Linked DNA regions of Homo sapiens: region 2 is linked to region 1. Evidence: fine-mapped expression QTL. Tissue or cell type: whole blood. Region 1 holds a variant in brackets; the other region holds the start of a gene. Each region is shown on its reference strand, or each on the opposite one. Region 1 has its middle 29 kb from the start of NEK6. Region 2 holds the start of CRIP1 (cysteine rich protein 1).

The links. PIP is the estimated chance that this variant, and not a neighbour inherited with it, causes the effect. A credible set is the group of variants that fine-mapping cannot tell apart.
Region 2: CRIP1 starts here. The variant in region 1 is the best candidate, but not a certain one, in a credible set for the expression of CRIP1 in whole blood (TOPMed, PIP 0.59).

Annotation. Positions count from the first base shown.
Region 1 is chr9:124,227,493-124,230,391 of GRCh38, forward strand. No RefSeq gene overlaps it. Among named protein-coding and RNA genes, the nearest start is that of NEK6, 29 kb to the right of the region's middle. The variant C/T (reference allele first, on the strand shown) is at 1,349.
Region 2 is chr14:105,485,352-105,488,193 of GRCh38, forward strand. It overlaps CRIP1 (cysteine rich protein 1), which reads left to right and starts at 1,535. Exons shown (of 6, transcript NM_001311.5): 1 at 1,535-1,621; 2 at 1,848-1,948; 3 at 2,815-2,842. The coding sequence starts at 1,909. RefSeq lists silencers at 1,755-1,804, 1,815-1,914, 1,965-2,094, 2,265-2,474 and an enhancer at 2,721-2,842.

The DNA of each region.
Region 1 (2,899 bases):
GATCCTTCAGATGCTAAAGTTCTGATAAGACAGAAAATTACTTTTTTTCAGAGGTTTTTAAAAACAATCAGTCTAAAAGCTAAAGTTCCCATGTGATACTGTGAAAAACATATTCATAGGATATTATTTAAGAAGAATAGACTGGGTACAGTGGCTCATGCCTATAATCCCAGCACTTTGGGAGCCTGAGGTGGGCGGATCCCGAGGTCAAGAGATTGAGACTATCCTGGCTAACATGGTAAAACCCTGTCTCTACTAAAAATACAAAAATTAGCTGGATGTGGTGGCACATGCCCGTAGTTCCAGCTACTCAGGAAGCTAAGGCAGGAGAATCACTTGAACCCAGGAGGCAGAGGTTGCAGTGAGCTGAGATCGTGCCACTGCACTCCAGTCTGGTGACAGAGCGAGACTCCATCTAAAAGAAGAAGGAGGAGGAGGAGGAGGAGGAGGAGAAGGAGAAGGAGAAGAAGAAGAAGAAGAAGAAGAAGAAGAAGAAGAAGAAGAAGAAGAAGAGGAGGAGGAGCACTAGAAGAGCAAATGTATTATGAACTTTGGACAAATTAAATAGTCCTTAAAATGGAATATAGCCATTGGAAGAATGTACATTAAACATAATTTTAAAATTTTTCTTTTTTTTTTTTTTGAGACACAGTTTCACTCTTGTCACCCAGGCTGGAGTGCAATGGCGCAGTCTCGGCTCACTGCAACCTCCGCCTCCCGGGTTCAAGTGATTCTCCTGCCTCAGCCTCCTGAGTAGCTGGGATTAGAGGTGTGTGCCACCACACCCATAGAGATGGGGTTTTGTTCGCCATGTTGGCCAAGCTGATCTCGAACTCCTGACCTCAGGTGAATCACCCTCCTCGGCCTCCCAAAGTGCTGGGATTACAGGAGTGAGCCACCATGCCAGCCAAAAAGAATATTTCTTAAACAAGTTTTTGAAAAACCAGTCAATTCGGTAATATGAGGCAGTGGTCCTTCAATGAGTTTTGGAGAACTGCCTTTTGTCCAATCGGCCTTTGAAGGTGTGGCAGCTTCCCCTACACCTGAAAGAGGTCCCACCCCAGGACACAGGCCCTGGCCTTGGGCATGGCAGGCCAGTCTCCCCCAGACCCACCCACTGACAGCCTCCCAGCAGGAGGGAACTCACACTCCTCACAACAGCACTTTGTGGTGTAAATACAAAACCCCATTTTACAGATGAGAAAATGGAGGCTTGAAGAAGTGAATTGACTTGCCCAGCGCCTCATAGTCAAAAAGTAATCAAACTGGACTTGGCACACAGGTTGACAAACCCCAAGGCCAGGATTCTCTCCTTGCTCCCCCAACCCTTGGATCTCCCACCTGCTGG[C/T]GCCAGACCTAATTAGGAGCTCTGCTGGCCCCTGAGGTGGGTTGGGAGGTGGGTGTGTCATTAGATTGTGAGATTCTGGAAGCTCCCGCCATGTGTCATTATGTCTAATTACATGAGTTCAGGCTTCTGCGTGGGCTGGTGGAGCCAGAGTGTCTCCGTGCCCAGGTGGCCAGGGAATTTCTGCAGCCAAGAAGTGGATGAGAGGCCGCTGAAGGACCCCGGTAACATGTTCCCCAAATCTCCTGGAGAAAGCCGAGTTCCAGGCCCCTCCCGGAGGCTGAAGGGTGGCCCCGATGGGGAGTTGGGGTCTCTCCATGCTTCTCGGGGTGCACTTAACCAGACTCCTACCTGGGCAGGGAATAGAGTAGAAGGAAATGGCTGCATGAGGGGCACAGCCCCTAGTCCCCTCATCCCAGCCCCAGACGGACAGACTCACACATGCATATGCACACACAAAACACAGAAACATGGTGTTGGAACAAATATCTGGACTTTTTTTTTTGGTAGATGAATCTGCTCTGTCATCCAGGCTGGAGTGCAATGGCATGATCTTGGCTCACTGCAACCTCTGCCCCCTGCTGGGTTCAAGCGATTCTCCTGCCTCAGCCTCCCAAGTAGCTGGGATTAAAGGGGCCCACCACCACACCCAACTAATTTTTGTATTTTTAGTAGAGACGAGGTTTCACCATGTTGGCCAGGCTGGTCTAACTTCTGACCTCAGGTGATCCACCCACCTCGGCCTCCCAAAGTGCTGGATTACAGGCATGAGCCACCATGCCTAGCCAAATATCTGGACCTTTGAGTAAAGAGCTGCTTACACTTTCATCAGTTCCACTGGGTGTTCACTCTGGGGGAAAGGCAAGTGAGAAGGAACATGGAATAGGGACAGAACGTGGTCACTGTCCTCCCTAGGCAGACATGGGTGAGGGAGGCGATCTTTTGCACGTGCTCATTTAATAAGCAGGTATTGGCCGGTCATGGTGGCTCATGCGTGTAATCCCAGCACTTTGGGAGGCCGAGGTGGGTGGATCACAAGGTCAGGCATTCAAGACAAGCCTGGCCAAGATGGTGAAACCCCAACTCTACTAAAAATATAAAAATTAGCCACGCGTGGTGGCGGGCGCCTGTAATCCCAGCTACTCAGAAGGCTGAGGCAGAGAATTGCTTGAACCTGGGAGGTGGAGGTTGCAGTGAGCCTAGATTGGGCCACTGCACTCCAGCCTGGACAGAGCGAGACTCCATCTCAAAAAAAAAGAAAAAAAAAAAAAAAAGCAGGTGTTGAGTGACTTCTGTGTGCCAGGCATTGTTCTAGGCATTGGGGTTATAAAATAAAGTCCCTCTTCTCAAGGGGAGAGAGACAATAACCATACACTAAATATGTAATGTACCAGATGGTGACAAGCAGAGTGAGGGTGAGGGGCCACTGCTCATAGATGATTATCTGGCTGGAGAAACAGTCAAACCTTTCCCCACTGACTTCCCAAACCCAGAGGATAGATGGAGAAACGACTTGGGGAATAGAAAAAAGGACCCACCTCCCCAGGTGCCTTC
Region 2 (2,842 bases), not on the chromosome of region 1:
CTGCCTCTCCCTCTGCTTGTCTGCAGGTTTGTCCCACGATGCCCCACACTCAGTGGAGATGGCAGGTGGGCCCAGACCTCAGAGTGGGTTTCAAGGCTCATGGGCTGGAGAGTGGGGGTTCCAAGTTTGCAGGACAGGAGCGCACCCCTACTCTGGAAACCTTATCTCTGAGGTCTCAGAATGGGGGATGAGGAGGGCTCCAATGGGCCCCTGTGGAATGTCCTATCAGACCCCAGGACTTAGCCCCAGTCGGGGGACAGAACTGTGGCCTTAGAGGGGCGCCAGGAGGAGGGCAAGCAGGATGTGGCCTTGGGCTGGGTGTGCTGGTGTGGGGCTCTCTGGAGTGTGGCCTCTGTGCCAGACGCCTGTGCCTTGGCCGTCCTACAGCCCTGCTGCCCCTGCCCTCTCCCCAAGCTGGGGACTGGTGGCAGACAGGGCAGGGCAGGCGGCTTCTCTTCCTCTAAGTGCAGGCCTCGAGGTGCCGACAGGGGTGCGGTAGGATTCAGGGAAAGTGAGGTTGGGATCACAGGTGCAGTTAGGGCTCAGGGCCCGACAGCGGTAGGCCAGCGGCTCCTGGGGCCCAGGAGGATGGTCTCCAGCGCCCCCAGCGGGGACAGGGCCAGCACAGGCCCAGTGGAGATCGAGGGGAGATAAGGACGCTGGTTAACATGGCTGACAGGAGGGATGGTGGGTGGGGAGGAAGGGCAGCACCGCCCTTGTGCTGTGGGAGCTCCCAGGGAGCTCCATGCAGCATGGAGGTGAAGGGCCTGCAGAGAGAGGGCTCCCCTGCTCAGTGACAGGAGAGGGGGCTGACAGTGACCTGGGCTCCCTTCCTGAGGCTGGCCAGTCAGCTAGAGGGCTGACCCCAAAGCCCGAGGCCAGCGCAGCCCCCTTGGCCCTCCTGAATCTGGGGGGCGGGTGAGGCGGGACAGACTCCGCCTGGCACCGGGACCATCCTCCGCCTCAACTTTGCAGCGTACTTGGACCGCTCTGGCCGCCCTGGGCGCTACCCGCAGAGATAAGGGCCCCTCCCTGCGCCCGGTCCGGGCATCTCCGAGCCGGCCTGGGGGTGGCTGAACTCTCTTTTGCCGGCCGAAACCCCAGCCCCCGCAGCCCCCGCAGCCGATCGGTCCTCAAGCTACAGCTCCCCTCTCTGGGAGTCCCCGCTTTTGAATTCCCCGGGGATGTTCCCGCTGCGGTCCGATGGACCTCCCAGAGCAGCGGAGGTCAGGGGAGCTAGCAGAGGCGGGGACGTCCCTTGGGAGTGAGGGGACTGACAGGGGCGGCCTCGTAACCCTGCGTGGGATGGAAGGTCAGAGTGGGTTCCTCGGTGGGGGGCAACAGCGGGGGCTCTCCGGCAATTGTCCCCGACCCTCCGTCCTGGGGAGGGCAGGATCAGCGCGCGGGCTGCTTTGCATCTCTTTGCATTTTAGTGATGTTTGGTCCAGTCCTGGCCCGGGCAGATCTGGGGTTCGGGCGGGTGCCGGTGGGGTAGGGCTGGGGGTGGGAGCGGCGTTTCCTGCTGCGGGTGAGCCTTTTGCCTCGGAACTGGACCCGGGAGACATCACAGCGCTGGGCTAGGGGCGCGGCTTGAACTCGCCTAAAGAGCTGCGCCCTCTCAGTAAGTCCCCATGGCCCCCTGCCCCCCCGCGCTCCGTCCTCAGTCAGGCCCGGGTCCTGCCTGAAGGCGGGGGTGGACCAGATGATCTTTCTTGGGCCCTGGGCCTAGATTCGAGGTCCCCAGGGTCCAAGTCCTGGGTTCAGAGGGCGGGGCGCGAGGGGCGGGGTCTCCAAGGGGCGGGGTCCCGGGGTCCCTGAAAGGCGCGGACCAGGCCGGATCCACCCAGTCTCGCGCCTGCAGCCCGTGCCGCCCCAGCCGCTGCCGCCTGCACCGGACCCGGAGCCGTCATGCCCAAGTGTCCCAAGTGCAACAAGGAGGTGTACTTCGGTGAGCGCGCCCACACCGGCCCCGCGAGGAGGCGCCGCCGACGGGGCGACGAGGCTGGGGACCGCTCAGGAGGACCGGGGGCGCTGGGTCCCTGGGGCGGCGCCCCAGCCTGAAAACGCCTCAGCCTGGCCCGCCGCCTGCCCCGGGATGAGGGTGGAGGCCCCTGCGTCCGAGGGCCCTGGCGATCTCTGCCTGCTAGTGGTCTTGCTGTGCTCGGCGGGCTACCTCTGGCTCTGAGCCTCCCCGTCTCTGGGTCCTACGGTCTCTGCCGTTTCCTCTCAGGCGCGCCCTGAGTGGGGGACCCGCAGGGCTGGAAGGAACGCGGGGCTGGGGCCGCGCCCCCCAGCGCTAAGTGGAAACAGACGCGGAAACCGACGCCCGGGGCGCGATCCCGGGCGCCCGCCTCCCTGCCCCGCGCCCGCGCGCCCCGAGGGGAGGGAGGAAGTGGGAAGTCACCCCTGTCCCCGCCGAGAAGGGCTGTCGCAGGCTCCACCCTTGCCACCGCAGAGGCCCGGGGCTGAAAGCAGGCAGCCAGGCCCAGGCCCTGCTGACCTAAGCCGCGACCCCTGACCCTCGGCCTCGCCCTCTAGCCCCACCCAGCCTTCAGGAGCAAGATTCCCGGCCGCACCCGAAAGTGCCCCGGGGACCAGCGACCCCGCGCTTTGTTTAGTTGTATTGGCTCTGGGGATTGGAGATGTTCCCCTCATGGAGGGTGCTGAGACCTTAGGGTGGGCTGCCAGGCTGGGCGGATGCGGGCTAAGTGCACAGGGCCTTGGGCAGAGCTGGCTGCAAGAGGCGGGTACGCCAGTGGTGGGTAGGCGCCGCGTCCTGCAGCGTCTCACCGGGGCCTGTCTGTGCCTCTGCAGCCGAGAGGGTGACCTCTCTGGGCAAGGA